2 separate regions of the Homo sapiens genome follow, and region 2 is linked to region 1. A link means that fine-mapping ties the variant in region 1 to the expression of a gene that starts in the linked region. Tissue or cell type: macrophages. Region 1 holds a variant in brackets; the other region holds the start of a gene. All regions are shown on one strand. Distances are from middle to middle.

Region 1 (8,187 bases):
ACCTATTTCAGACCCTGGATAGGACCACAGTCCTACCCCTCACTGACTTAATCATCCCCAACCCAGGCACTAGGTGTTATTTGATGTGACTTATCTGTTGGGTTTGCCCTGACTGCCTCTTTTTTTTCCTTTTCAAACACTTTCATAGTTTCCAGGACACCTTTTCTGCAGATTTCCCTCCAGCCCCTAGCCTCTCCAGTTCCTGGCTTTTTCTTAACATTGCTGTTCTTTGGTAAAGTGTCACCACTCAGTGTCTGATGCCTTAACTTACTAGGTCCCATTTCTTTTCTCCTAGAAAGACAGTGCTCTTAAGATGGCGAACCACACCATTCTAGAAAGAGGTCAGGGTTATATTTCTGTCTTGGGATGGTGGGTCATTAAGCCTCATTAAGTTATGCAAATCCTAAAGTCCTGGCACCTTCAGGGGCTCTAGAATATCCAGCACGTGAATCACAGAGCCTTGTGGGTGTGAGCTGCCTCTGCACACGGTGGGGAGAGCCTGATCAATGTCAGGAAGCTTTGGGAAAAGATAGGATCGGAGCGGACCTTGAGAACATTCACATTCAAGACTTGCCCTAATGCCAACGCTAGACAATCAGCCTGCCTGCTGGCCCTGACACCTGCCCCAGAGAGCAGTGTAGAGCCATGCCTGTGTGACGAGCCCCGAGGGTGTGGCATGCCTCCCTAAATGTCTCCAGGTTCTCTGCATGTGTAGTTTTGGATCTGAGAGACAGAGGGTGGCCTTCTTAGAGTTCTTTCCTCTTCGGAGTAGTCAAAGGTGACTGAGGCATGACACAGCCTGATGCAAGGTCTCTTTCTCCTTCTGCAGCTTTGATCACATGATGAAGTTCTGCAACATTTGCTTTTATACTACAGGCATCATGGGCTTGCTGAGTGAACTGTTACATGAAGTGTGCGCTAGGAAGCGCTTTGAGCTTTTAAAGATCTCTGGCTACTGTACAAACTTCTGATTCTGATGAACATGAAGTTGCTGTATTTCTAGGTGGCTTTAAATCTTGGAATGATGGAAGCATTCCTTGCAGGTCATGCCATATAATGAAAGGTGTTTATAACCCGCCCAATGGTTGTCCTGCAGTGCTTGTCTTCTCTGAATAATTACTTTTTTTCTTTTATTTTGGGAAGACTGCCACTGGAAAGGGAAAGCTGGACTCTTACCCTGAAAATAGGTGCCAGTTTCTTGTCTTGAATTATCCTTCATCTTGGTTTTCGGTTAAATGAGAAATTTGCTTCAAATTCTGAATTATGTTTCTGGTGTGGTTAAATTAAGTTGTATTTTATTCTTTTGGAGAAAAGAATATATTTAATTTTGTACTTAATGTTGAGATCCCCAGAAAGGCCTCAATAAATAGTATTCTTCACAGTTATATTTCTAAACAATTTGAGAAATTAAGCAAGGACTTGGAAGGTGGTGGCCAAAGCTTCTCCCGGGGCAAGTAAGGTGCAGGAAGGCAGGAATTTATCTAAGGAAGGATCCTTTCTAAGGGAAACTAGAAGTAAGGAAGTTGTTCCTCTTTAAAAGCTAAGTGTATCAGATCATCCATGGAAACCATTTTATTCATTAATTTCTGAAGTGTTTAAGGAGCTCCTGCAATGTGACAGGCACCAAGTCTGATAACTTAAAGATGAACAAAATAAGTTTCCTCTGTCAAGAAACAGCCTTGTCGAGGACACATGCAAGGACATGCAAATACACACACACATATGCACATACACATACATACGCACACACAATACATACATACATACCTACGCATCTATACACACATACACATACATACATACACATACACACATACACATACACACATGTACACATACATAGACACACATACATACATACACATATATACACACATACACATACACACATGCACACATACACATACACACATAGACACACAGACACACACATATACTTACATGCACACACACACATACACACATACATGCGCATATTCTAACACACACACACACACACACACAAACACACACACACACTACTCTGGAAAGGAATGGGGACCAGGTTTGGCTGACAGAGGAGACAGGAGCAGCTCATAAAGCATCATTATAACATTGCCAAGAAGCTTTATCTTTTAGATTAGTGTCGTGCGTCCAAATTACAATGAGAACTGCACATGTAATTTTAAATTTTCTGGTAGCCAAATTAAGAGATAGGTGAAATTAATTTTAATATATCTGATTAACATAATGTATTCAAAATATTACCAGTTCAAAATGTATCCATTGTAAAAATTAATGAGATATTTGGCATTTTCTTTTTTTGTTGGAAATCTTCAAAACCCAGTGTGTATTTTATGCCTACAGCTTATCTCAGTTTGGACTAGTCACATTTCACATGTTCAGCAGCCTCATGTGGCTGGTGGCTAATGGAGTGGACAGCATAGCTGTAGACAGTGATTGCGTGTAACCTTCTTTTACATACAGGAAAATTATGGCTTAGAAAAGTAAAGTACCTTCAGCAGAACTGACTTCCATTTTCAATGATATGGCAGCTTAGGTTATTTTGCCCAACTCTTCTTCTAAAAATATTGGATAAAATATATTTTTAAATCTTAAAAGTATCGAAGAGCTGTCAAGATAGTAAGGACATACCAGGCAAAATCTAAGGGAAGATAGTGCAGATAGTCAGGGCACCACAGCGTTGCTGAGGATATATACGAAGCCAAGAAAATCTGATTGTCAGCATTCCAGTAGTGTCAACACAGACGTCAAAGCCCAGAGTCTGCCTTGGAGTCTAACAGGGATTCTTCCTCCATAAAACTGGAACTGTGAAAGGCTGTAACCTCAATGTAAAGATGAACCAAAAGGAAGGTTGATCACCCCACAGGTCTAGTGGCCAACTCGGAAGTTTGTATTGGTCTGAGTTGAGCTGAGGATAATAAAAGTCTCTGAAAAGTGGTGACCACAGAGCGGCCTGCTTGCAAATTTGCAGCGTGTATTCAGATCCCCCGGATGCTCTGGAAATCTCCAACCATGATGTTAGCTTCAGATAGTCTTGGACTGAGCATGTGGCACATGTCAGAAACAATAAACTGTAAAAATTAACCTAGGAGGTTTTAAAATGAATCAAAAGAACCTGTAGAAATAAGAAACTACTGGATTGAAAAGCTCACCGTATGGGTTTCATGTCAGCTTAAACACAGCTGGAAAGACTGTTAGTGAACTGGAAGACACATCAGAAGGAAATATCCAGAATGCAGCAGAGATACAGACATGAAAAAATACTTTTTAACAAACATGGGAAAGAGATTAAGTATGTCCTTCCAGAAGATGGGGATGGAGGGAAGAAAGAGACAGTATTTGAAGAGACAATGGCTCAGAATTTTCTAGAACTGACAAATAATACTAATCCAAAGATTCAAGAAGCCCAGTGAAACCCACGGAAAATAAAAGAAAAATCCAGTCACACGTAGATGCATCATAGTGAAATTGTGGAACACCAAAATATACAAGACATTAAATGTCACCAGAAGAGAAAAGACACCTTCCAAAGAGTGACAGACCACCTTCCAAAGAGCGACACCCTAAAGTCTAACTTCTTCCCAGCTGCAGCAGAAGCCAGAAGATGATGCAATCGTATCTTTAATGTGTGCTGAAAGAAAAAGAAGTTCTAGTCTAGAACTCTACACTTAGCAAAAATAACTTCCAAGAATAATGGCAAAATAAACACATTTTCAGATAAACAATAATTGTGTTTTTCACCATCATATCCTCACTAAAGAAAATGCTAAAGATAAATTTTCAGGAAAAGGAAAAAGATCTCAGATGACCTGAGATACAAGAATGAAAGAAGAGAAAAAAAGGTGATACGTGGATAGATGTAAATGAACACTGTATAAACAATGATAAAGTCTTGTGGAGTTAAATTAGAAGGACAATATTAGAATATTAGGCCAGAATAACATAAAAGGCACTAGGAAGGATAAATTGAGATATTTAAAAAATATATGACTTCCAGCCAGGTGCAGTGGCTCACCCCTGTAATCCCAGCACTTTGGGAGCCTGAAGTGGGCAGATCACCTGAGGTCAGGAGTTTGAGACCAGACTGGCCAACATGGGGGAACCCCGTTTCTACTAAAAATACAAAAATTAGCTGCGTGTGGTGGCAGGCACCTGTAATCCCAGCTATTCAGGAGGCTGAGGCAGGAGAATCGCTTAAACCTGGGAGGCAGAGGTTGCAGTGAGCTGAGATTGTGCCACTGCACTCCAGCCTGGGCAACAGAGCAAGTCTCTGTCTCCAAAAAAAAAAAAAAAAAAAAAAA[AAG/G]TATAACTTCTAAACTAGTAGAGGGAAAAAATGTTTATTGCAAAAGAAGGCGAGAAGGAAGAGAGAAGAAAGGCACCATGGAAACATGAGACAAAAAAAAAAAAAAAGGAATGCACAAAATAGGACAATCCTTGTAAATCCAAGAACAGTTACACCTCCCTACACACTGCCCAGCTCTGGTCCTAACCAGGGGAGAGGAAGGTGAATTGAGAATTGAAAGCACCATTGAAAGAAACACAGTTAAATCACTTGTTCAAGACTGTAGTCAGGAAATCAAACCAGCCTTGGCTTGTTGAGGCAACAATGGCCTCCTTGCAGTTTAGTTTTGTCCATGCTATGTGTAACTCTCTTCTGCACCTACATCCTTATGGAATGGATTGGTGTAGAGACAGTCTCCCAACTCATGTAATCTGTATCTGACACAATCTTTGTTTCTGATATTTTAAATGTCAGTCCACAAAAGTCAAACAGCTGCAATTTAACCTTGTACTTTTAATCTAATTAATCAACATCTTCAGGACTATGACAGGTAGAAAGAATATGTATACATCTTTAGTCCTGTCTGGCTCTAGTTTCACCCACTTTCAGAGCTGCTGGAAGTGGACAGTGTCCCTCCTTGTATCTAAGATACTTGGTTCCCCTTGATATTCTAATTTTAGGGCCATGGTGGGGCAGGTGGGATTGGCCCCCTTGGTCTGAGCCAGCTTTCAGAATGACGTCTCTCCAACTGAATTTATATGGCAATGGTATTATTTTCCTGGTTTCATTCAGTTCCTAAGTACCACATTTTAACTCTTCCATACTTCTTATTCCTAATTTGCAGCACAGCACAGTGGGTTAGAGTGTGGGATGTGAAGTGACACAGGCCTGGTCTGAGTCTGGGTGTGATATCTGCTGGCTTTGTGATCCTGGGTATTTATGTTAACTCCTCTACATTTTGGTGTTCTCGTCTGTCAAGTGTATGCTAACTGCGTTGTTACATAGATAATGTTTGTAAACCATTTGTCACTAGGTGTGGCCCACAGTAAGCACTTAATGAATGTTATTATATTTGGAATCAAATGATTAACCTTCTCCATATTGTGTTCTTAAGGAGTTAAAAAACCAAAGCAGGGGTGCTGAGGAGATTTGAACCAAGATTAGCATGGGTCTAACCAGTCTGTCTTCATGGGAAATCCAGACTGGAAAAAACTTTTTTCCTCTGGACATCTGGATATATTTATTGGGAACAAAGAACAAAGTCTGACTATTGTTATAACCTTAGATTACAGTCTATTGGATAAATACATCTAATTACTACCCAAGAACCACAAAATTGACTTTTTAATGATTAGTTTATTTCTGCTTGTCTTTATTCTAGAGATGGGTATTTTAGATCATATATAAATTGTTCCTTTTTCCTTCAGACCTATATTGGCATATTGCTTGTCTTTCTTTCCCATTGGCATGATTAGAGAGTGAGATTTGGAATATTCAGAAGTTAAGGTGGAATGAGAATCTTTCTACTCCTTTGATCAATATCTTAAGGTCTAAGGATCTTTTTTTTTTTTTTTTTCCCTTGGTTTCTTCTGGGTAAAGCTTCCCATGAGCTCTCTGCTGATTGGCCACAGATAGCTAAAACCAGTTGGGAGGCAGAGGGAGAATCAGAACTATAAAATAGTATTTTATGTATTTTCTTTAACCTTTTTTAATGGGAGAAATATAAAAGGATCAAATCACTCTGCCTTTTAAAAAATTAATGGGCTATTTTTTAAGAGCACTTTTAAGTTTACAGAAAATTTGTGAAGGAAGTACAGATAGTTTCCATATACTCTCTTACATTCAGTCTCTCTCTCTCTCACTTGCTCACTCGCTTTTCCATTAGTCTGGTACATTTGTTACAATTGATGAACCAATGTTGATAATGATACATTATTTTGACTAATGCATAATGTCATGTGCCCATGAAGACAATGTCCTGCAGCAGAGCGTCACTGCCATAAAAATCCCGTGTTCCTTATTCATCCCTCCCTTCCCCTGACCCTGGCACTTCCCACATACATGGCTGCACTTCAGATACAGCTCATCTAAATGACATCAGCTTCCTAAGGTCACCCTGTTTCGTTTTAATTCCTGTATTTCATAGACTCTAGTCATTGACCGTAAGGTGCATATTTATTATGCATCTCTAAGAAAGGAAAAGAAATGCTCCAATTAAACTAAGGGATGCCATCAATAGTGAGACACACCCTGATTTCAGCATGTTAAAATGTGAACCAACGGAGCATTTCAGAACTGATAAGACAGAACAGAGCCTGGGCCTGCACAAAACTCAGTGCTATCTTGAAAATGAAAACAAATACTCAGAGAACCACATTTCAGGTTGGCATTCAGCCCTTTTTTGGGTGGAGGAGAGAGGGGTTAGGAGGGCGGTGGGTGAGGAAGGGGCAGGTGGAGACAGTGAGGTGGAAGAGGGGGCCAGAGACTGATGGAGGAGCCCACGGATGTGCAGCTGGCCTGGATCTGCCGTGTGCAAGTGTACAGCACAGACAGAAGTCCGTACCGTCTCAGTGGCCTGGGGCAAGTTGCTAAGACTTTCAGAGCCTCAGCTTCTTCATCTGTGCAGAGGAGGGATAGTCCTGACGGGCAACTAAGGTTGTAAGTAAGTGAATTCCGCATGTGACGAGCCTCACTCACTGTGTGGCTACAGTGTGTGTACAATACATGTGGGTTCTCTCTTCACCCCGATTCCTCAATGCCTTCCTCCTCTTCCCTGCTCCTCCATCCTGTTCGTGCCCCTTCCCTGGACCCCACCCATCACCTGAGCTGTGACCTCAGGGCACCCTGCTGGTCTTGGCACACTCATTAGACTTCACCACAAGAGCCAGATGGGGAGGAGGCAGGACAGTCCGCAGATGGGAAAGCCTCCTAATTCCTGGCCTTGGTCTTCCCAGGGCTGCCAGACAATCCGGGTTTAGCAACACTGTTGCATGCCCACTCACCAGCCTCATAGCTTGATTAGATAAAGCTCACCTGGTAGATGAAACCCTGGCAAAATGATTTATCAGGGATGTTTTAAAGATGGGGATATAAAATAGGCACAGATTTATTACTTCAAAATTACTAAGATTCTAAGAAACACGTGTTCTGCACGTGCACGAGGCCAGCAAAGCAAGAGGACTGAGCCCTCAGCATCAGGGTCAGCAGCAGCTGGTACAGGAATTCTGCCCCCAGAATGGGCATGACCTTGGGAAAGCCATCTCTCTTCCATTTGCCATTGGTGAAATGAGATAGCGATGCCGATCTCACCAGGTGGCTCTCGGGATTCTAGGGAATGATGTTTACGGAAGCCCCATTCGACGGCCGCTGGCTGCTCAACCCAGAGGTGCCCTGTTCAGTTCCTCCCCAAGCTGCCCTCCCAGAGGCACGGCCGTGCTTGTTACCATGGTGACTGCTGGGTTAACAAGGACTGGAATCGCCAGATTTAACAAATAAAAATTCAGCACACCCAGCTAAATTTAAATTTCATATACACATGATTTTTTAGTATGTGTCCCAGATATTGCATGCCTCATAATGTCGTTTAGTATTGCGTGGGACATACTTATGCTAAAAAATAAAGTGTAATTTATCTGAAATTCAAATGTAATGGGGTACCTTGTATTTTACCTGGTCATCTTAATAGGGACAGAATATTACGTTGTTGGAAACACTGGGAAGTTTCACTTGAAACAAGTGATGTAAGGAGAGGATCTCAGAATTATCTGGTGACCTAATTTATCACAAGTCTGATAGAAAAATGTGCAATTTATACATAATCCTTAATAATTAAAAGCTGCTCTACTGAAAAAGTTGGTTTTCTACTAGAAGAGAGACAAAATTAAATATCCTAAGGCGTCCTA
Region 2 (8,187 bases), 82 kb before region 1:
GTAAAAATCATCCCAAGTTTCATACCACTTGAACTAATGTGCTCTATTGTCACTTGGCTATGAAGAATACAAGTGCTAGGTTTCAGTATTGGCATCGTATTACCTTGTCTTTTAAAATCAGGTTGTGAAACTGGTATCTTTTTCAATTTGTTGCCAATCAGTTATGCGTTAATTGATTTGAATTCAGTTCCTTCTGTTGTGGTAGATTTGCTTCTGTATCGTATGATTTCAAGTTGCTCATTGCCTGAATTCAGGACAGGGTAGTGGGTGGCTTTCTGGGGCCATCTCAGGCGGGCTGAATTGACCTGAAGATGGCAATAAGAGAAAAAAGCCAAGTAAATATCAAGAACAATTTTTAGCATAAAATTCAGTGTTAAGATTCATTGAGAGCTAATCAATAGAAACGAAGGTTCTGTAAATACATCCATCTTATGGGAATAACTTAGGTCATAACCATTGTTGGCAAAGGAGGAAATTTTTCTTAGTTCCTCTGCACTTTCCCCAATGATATTAATGTTACACCTCTTTGATCGTACTTGAAATGATTGTAATAATAACGAGAGCCGTAAGAGTTTGTTGGTCATAAAAACATACAACATTTTAAGAACTTTATTGGGTTTTTATTGACATATATAACTATTAAATATAAGATTATAGACCCCAAATATCAAATTAACTTTAGCATTTACAATTTTCCTTTGTCTCCTCTAAGCAGCCACAATTTCCAATGTAGCACATAATGAGGTCATCATAGTTGCAAATCTATATCTTCATATTGTATAACTTGAGAACATTTTTAAACTCAGTGTATAGGTTTGTGTGGATGTTGTATCAATGTTCACAACACGAGGCAAGTGGAAATAAAGCAAAAATACTGTTAATGTGTAATAACATTGTGCTAACAGAATGGGCAATTTGTAACAATGCCATCAGTGACTCCACTATCTAGCACAACAGTTAATACATAGTGTGTAAGTTCACATTTCAGATAAGTGATAGTTATCATTTTAAGTACCAAAACTTAGGTTTAAAGAAGTTTCTGAGATATGCAGAATTCTACCTCTCACTGGGCTTTGAAAATATGTTACTCCTCAGGACTCACCGTGTCGTAAGCATCACTGATTATTGTTTATGTCTGTTCTAAATTGCAGAAACAGTTTCAGAAACCTAGGTTATTTGGTTTTTAGTCCTAATCTTGTTACTGTAAAAGTCACACGTGTTCATCCATTGTAGAAAGTTCTCCAAAGTGCAATCACATATAAAGAAGCAAATAAAAATCATCCTCAATCTCACTCTCCAGAAGTAATGATTATTAACAGTTTCATGATCTTCATCACACTGCATTAAGTTTCCCAGAGCTGCCATCACAAATTAGCACAAACTGTGTGACTTAAAACAACAGAAATTTATTCTCTTACAGTTCACGAGGCCAGGAATCTAAAATTAAGGCATCAGCAGGGTTGGGTCCTTCTGGAGGCTCTCAGAGAGTCTGTTCCATGCGTCTCTCCTGGTTTCTGGTGTTTGCCAGCAATCTTTGATTCATAGACACATCATTCCCATCTCTACCTCCGCCATCACATGGCCTTATTCTATGTGTGTGTCTTTCTGCATCCTCTCCTCTTTTTATAAGGACACCAGGTATTGGGTCTATAGCCCATCCTAATCCAGAATGACTTCGTCTCAGCTGATTAACATCTGCAAAGACTCTGTTTCTAAACAAATTCATATTGTGAGGTTCTGGGTGAACATGAATTTGTGGGGGACACTGGGGGACACTTATTCAACCCACTACACACACTGTAATATATATTTATAGAATCACGAAAACGGGACCATAATTTATATAAAGCTTAGTTCCCTTTACACTTAAGATACCATGAATTTCCCTAGGTCTTTCAAACACAGAATTTTAATTTTTTGTAGAGTGTTTCATCATATGAAGATTACATCATTTCCATAGCTAACCTGCTACTTCAAACACTCAGATGGTTTCCAGACTTTACTATTATAAATGGCTCTGATGAATATACATGTTCCCAAATCTTTGAATTTATCTCTGCTTATGTCCTTGGTATAAATTATTCTGAGTCGAATTATTGGATTAAGGGGTATGAACATTTTAAAGGCTCATGAAAAATCTTCTTTAATTGAATTCCAGAGATTGTATCAATTTGCCATCACCAGCAGAAGAGAGAACCCATGGCATTGCATTCTCTGCACTGCACGTTCTAGCTTTTTGAGTGTTGGACAAGTGACTAGGCAAAGAAATAACATCCTTACTTTGTGACTTGTATTTTTATGTAAGGTTGCCTCTTTGTTTACGGACCACTTATATATCTTTTTTAGGTTACCAATTTATGATTTGTGTCTCCTTTTCAATTTTTTTCTCCTCTCTCCAACTGCCAGTATTTATTTCTTACCATCTCACGGATGAGTATACTGTCCACCTCCACCCCTTTTAGAGTCCACTGTTAGCTAAGAAACTATGTAGATGTATCCTCCCTCTCCTTTTCCCATTCTCGAACCACCTCTGAATCTTGTACAAATGTCAATCATTGCCTCCATTGTGTCTTAACTGTTTACATTTCGCTTTCCCTTCTAAGACTTTGAGCACTTTGGGGCCATTTCCATGTCTTATCTGTGTTTTTGTATCTTCAGCAACTAACATGGATGCTCAATAAACATACATTGAACTGAGTTGTTACGTTGTGACCTGGAAATATTCACAATTCCTTGTATAGATAGAAATAGCTAAATAAGGGCACATAAGGATAGACTCTAAATGGCACTCAATAATGTGCATAGGGCTGGGCGTGGTGACTCCCTGCCTGTAATCACAGCACTTTGGGAGGTGGAGGTGGATCACCTGAGGTCAGGAGTTAGAGACCAGCCTGGGCAACATGGTGAAACTTCGTCTCAACCAAAAACACAAAAAATCAGCTGGGTGTGGTAGTGTATGTCTGTAATCCCAGCTATTTGGGAGGCTGCAGCACGAGAATTGCTTGAACACAGGAGGTGGAGGTTGCAGTGAGCTGAGATCGTATCATTGCACTCCAGCCTGGGCAACAGAGCAAGACTCTGTCTCAAAAAAAAAAGCATAGGATTTAATCCATGAATTTTGAATTTCTATGTTAAATTTTTAGAAATAGTAACTTTTTCTCCCATATTTCTCAGCTATATCTGAGATAACTGGGACTGAGCAACATTGTCTAGACAGGCAAAGTGTTAGCAATAATAAGTATAATAATAATTGTAATGTAATAATGGAATGAGGATGTTAAAGTACTGAGATCAGGATAAAAGTTACAATTGTCCAAATTTTAAATTTCCTATCATTTCCACTGAAATCACTGACTGTACTTATAACATTATCAGGAATTTATGCAATTTGTAGGTTTTGAAATAAATTACCATTCAGAATTCAACCGTGAAAAACAGTGTAACTCTACTTGAAAAACACTTTGAAAAACTCAAGTTTCCACCAAATCTAGAAGCACATGGGTCGTAAAACATAGTTCGAAAAGTTACGAGAGATGATGACTACAAGGAACTTTTTATAAAAATCTTTTATAAGCATTACTCTGTGGTCAAATTTATTTTCACATGGATATTAAAACAAGTTATTGCTACAAATGGGTTTCTGTTCTGATCCTTTTTTTGTTTGCCTCACATATCCTTTCTCTTCCACCACATTCTGCTTCACTCTCCCCGTCTCTCATCACAGACAAGAAAAATGCCACCTCCCATAGGACCCACTCCAAACCCTGTTTCCTGAATGATCAATGCCTTCCCCCATCGCAATCAAAAAAGCACTTTCTATTCTGTCTTCATGACACACTGGTTTTGACACTTGCATAGCTGTTAGTAATTCTGCAATGTGCTTGGGCTATTTGTGAGCACATGTATTTTTCCTTTATAGATTATAAACATCTAAAGAACAAGGTTAACCCAGGAGTCAAGTAAATAGTTAAATATTATTTTGACAATGGCTGTAATAGTGGACATTTGAAAGGAATACACCTCAGTATTTTGAAATTGAAATAATTTTCTAGATCCTGGCATTTCTGGACTTTCAACAGCCCACCCTTTTTAAAAATTGTGAAGACACTTTTACTATAAAGGTCTGCCCAGACCCTCTCTGATACACCTGTGTAAATGCCACGTGCATGTGAGCATGCGACAGTACGTGTGTGCACGCCTGTGCAGTGGTAATCAACCATGGTGCTAAGGTTTGAAAACAGAAAATACATCAATCGACCTCCAAGCTTCTTTCATCCCACTTCATAACATCTCAATCTCTTGAGTGCTGAGGCTTATTTTGTTTAAGATGATTTGGACTCTTCTGAGTGCAACGCAATCTCCTTCCAGCACAGCGGACCGAGGAGAGGTGAGGGGAGAGTTTTGAGGGTGGGCATATTGATCCTACGCTTGCTGAATTAAAAATGAGCCAACTGAGGACAATTTCCAGGTTGCAACACAGACGGAGCCGGAGTCTGGGTTGAGGTTAGAGGAGCCGTTAGGGCGCAGGGATGCAACAGGATTTGGGAGAAAGGGGAGAGAAAGCAAGGCCACTTCCAGGGGGCTTTCATTTTTTTTTTATCCTGGCAGCTTCCCGAGCCAGATTTCAAAAGCGATTTCAAACGTGAAGCCAACTGAAGCACTGCCTTACACTAATTGGAAGGGGAAGGGAGTGACTCATATTACACCAGCTCGCTCTTCCCTCTCGGCAACTGCTAACTTGTAGCTTTAAAAGGAAGTGACATGGGTGGGGAGAGACGTCAGCTGAGGACCACTTTTTTTTTTTTTTTCTTCCTGAAGGGTCCACCCCATGGGTGGAGTCTCGCTTTTTCTTTCCAGTGTTGGCTGACTTACAGCTCTTATAAACTAGTGGCAATTTCTGAACCCAGCCGGCTCCATCTCAGCTTCTGGTTTCTAAGTCCATGTGCCAAAGGCTGCCAGGAAGGAGGTATGTGGTCCTGGTGCCGTTCGCAGGCACCTTCCCCGCTGGGTGTGGCTGATGTTTGCATTCCTCTTCCCAGCATATTTTTCTCTCCTGGGCTGGATTTCCTTAGGACCTCTGGAAGGGGTAGGCTCCGGGGGCGGGGGGGGAGTGCAAGGCGGGCGGGGGAAAGGTGCAGGGGGCGCCTGGAGGGAGGCGAAGAGAGGCTCTGCTGGTACAAAAGGACCCTCGCTTTGTGCTGGGCCGGGTGAGCGTCCCTTTCTGGGCTGTGATTTCAAGCTGCTGTTCCTGGCTTCATTTACCCACCCACCCAGCCCCCTCCCGGGGCTAAAGCATTTTCTCTGCTATAGACGAAGCTGGGCGGGGGGTGGTGGTGGGGGGAATGTTCCTATTACATATTGCTCTCTTTTGTGTCATGCAACATGTTCTTCCGTCGCTGACGTTTCTATGGCAACCACAAAAATACTACACAATATGCAGCCCCGATATACATTGATTTATTTGTATTTTGTGTCTAGTTTGCAGCTTTCTGCTCTGCTTCTTGCTTTGGTTTGCTAAAATCCAGCATGGCTTGTGGCTACCCCTCCTCACTTTCATTTTGGTTTTTCCCTATCACAGGAGGGGTGGGGGAGGGGAGTTGTCAAGGAAACAGGCATTGGTAATTACCTCTCTATTTACCTAATTTTCGGCCTATGAATTTCTCCATATCGAGGAATTAAAAAAAGAATGCTTTGATGTTTATGTAAGTCTTCAGTGTCTGGTCTTTTTTTAGAAAACCTAAACACTTCTTAAGATAAGATATTGATCCTGTGGTCAAGCTAAGGGGGAATTAATTCCTTACAGGAGGTGAGATCATTGAAATAAAGTTTTAGAGAGCATTGGAGAATTCGCACTGATAAATGTGATATTGCCTGCCCAGGTTTGCCTAAAAGCTTAAATATTTAAAAGATGGGTCTTTGCTCTCATCTGCACTTATTTAGCTCCAAATCTTAAGTTCAACAAGTATGAGTAACAAATTAACTGCCGGGCAGGATTCTCCGTTTTTCGTTTTCGTGCATTGTTCTTAGATGGATTAGCCACGCTATTCACTCTCTTCAAGGTGAGGGTTGCTAGACTTTTTCAAAACTGTGGAAGGATTAACTCATCTGTGATTAGTCAACGACTCTCAGTTGGAAAAAAAGTATCTTGAGAGAAGGGAGAATGTGTGTGTTTGTGTGTGTGTGTGTGTGTGTGTGTGTTTAGGGAAATGGGAGGCGGGCAGGGAGAACAGGGCACATCTTGAGTTCTACGTTAAAAGGATTCCATCTTCTGAATATTCTCTATGGGGAGAAAAACTGTTATTCAGAAAAAATATGAAATGAGAAAATTATTATCTACTTAGTAATAAGCAAAGTTAATTATAATTAGAATCAAATAACACATCTCTTAGAAAGACATAGCCTCTTAACAGGTACCGGCTAAACTGATGCTTTTATTCAGTACGTCTAAGGAAGCGTTTGATAAGGGATACCATTCTTCTGATGGGCATCCCAAATAATTAGCTTTTATAAAATAGATAAGTAGTAATCCCATTCATGACTCTTAAAATTATCTATAATTTAAGATAAACATGTGTGAAGGTCACTTAGCCCTCATACCTTCCGGCTGCTAAAGCCAAAATCATTACTTATAAACCTTGAGCAACCCTGCCATGTGGAAGCAGGAAGAATGGGTGGTTTCAGTGAGGTTCTGTTTGCTGTGATCCTTATCTAAATATGCTATCATCTATGTCTTATCAAATCTGCTATAAATCCAGAGGTCCTAAGTAATTCAGGTAGAAAAGTTACCTGAAAATGGGGCAAAATAGCATGGCACAAAACAAACCAGAGCCACATGGAGTTAAAGACGAGAACTATTTAAAGGGCATAACACACAGAAAAGTATTACTAAAAAGAATATGACACTCATTTTGAAAAGCACATGTTAGTACACAGAGAAACGGTTGGATTGTGAGCATCTGATGTTTGCAAAGAATTCTGAAAAGCAGCCAGGCTGAAATTACTGTTTTTCCTGTCTGAAAATGGTCCTCAAGGGCAGATTTGCCACATGACCTTCCAAAGCAGATTGACAGCATGTAAATCAAAGTCTGCGATGTCGGTTCTCTTGAGTTTCCAGATTCAAAATTTCACAGCAAAAAGCCTAATGGAATAGAACTGAAAGGAAAAAGAGCAAGACTTCCTCAGAAGCACAGCCAAAACAAAAACAACAAAAAACCCAAACCCAATAAACAAACAAAACACTGTCTGATATTCAGATGCTGAGTAGAGGTTAAAGCAGTTAGCAGCTTTGGCCTAGGGAAGGTAAGTGGAGCTGTGAGTATAAAGTAAACGTAGGGTCCCATGGAAGAGGCTGACAGAGGTGACACCCAGAGGGTGAGTCAGCCGTCATTTTATTGGGATTTTACTGTCTGCAAGGCTCTGCTGTGAAGTTGGTGAAGAAGGCAGCAGTTGTAGTCTGTGCTCTCAAGCTTAAAATCCACCAAACGGGTGGCGAAAAGAAGAGCAGAGCACCCAGCTGGAAGGAAGGGGGAGGCAACAGCCAGTCAAGGAGACGCAATTAGTATGAGAAGAATACTAGAGAGTCTTCATCCTGCTGCTGAAGCTTTATAGGAGAGGAGGCAGACGGTTCAAGGGAAGAAGGAGAGGGTGTCTTAGATAGCAAAGGTGGATGGTAAGAAATGGATCATGGTTCAGGGTTCTTAACTCCAAGAAGGGAGAAGTCAGTCTTTAGTATAGAAGTAGAGCAGGTATACTCTGTGCTGGTTGAAAGCATAAGTAGATGTAAATTGGGGACAGAAGTTTTTCTTAATCAGAAAAAGAAGGACTGTTAGAAGACTGAACAGAAGGCAGAATCCTTCCTAATCCAATACTTTTTTAGCTTCAGCTTAACAACGAAAGGCCAGACTTACACTAGACTTTAAACAGGTATGAAACTGGGGAAGACGCAACCAGGAACTTACCCGGAATGTCATCTTCATAATTCCTGCCATTGCCATTGTTTTAAATTATTGGATGCTCAAATGAGGGTTTGGTAAATGTCACACGTTTTGTGCAGTCTCCTTTATTCTGGAAAGGAGGTCTGATGGTTATGGGACAAAGCCGCATTCACATTTATTTTTTTTTTGAGATGAAGTCTTGCTCTGTCGCCCAGGCTGGAGTGCAATGGCGTGATCTCGGCTCACCACAACC

What was found. PIP is the estimated chance that this variant, and not a neighbour inherited with it, causes the effect.
Region 2: it holds the start of AGPAT4, and the variant in region 1 is fine-mapped to the expression of AGPAT4 in macrophages (Nedelec 2016, PIP 0.95).

Annotation. Positions count from the first base shown.
Region 1 is chr6:161,188,262-161,196,448 of GRCh38, reverse strand. All of the region lies in intron 2 of AGPAT4 (1-acylglycerol-3-phosphate O-acyltransferase 4), which reads left to right. Among named protein-coding and RNA genes, the nearest start is that of AGPAT4-IT1, 30 kb to the right of the region's middle. The variant AAG/G (reference allele first, on the strand shown) is at 4,305.
Region 2 is chr6:161,270,717-161,278,903 of GRCh38, reverse strand. AGPAT4 (1-acylglycerol-3-phosphate O-acyltransferase 4) reads left to right here and starts at 4,843. Exons shown (of 9, transcript NM_020133.3): 1 at 4,843-4,966.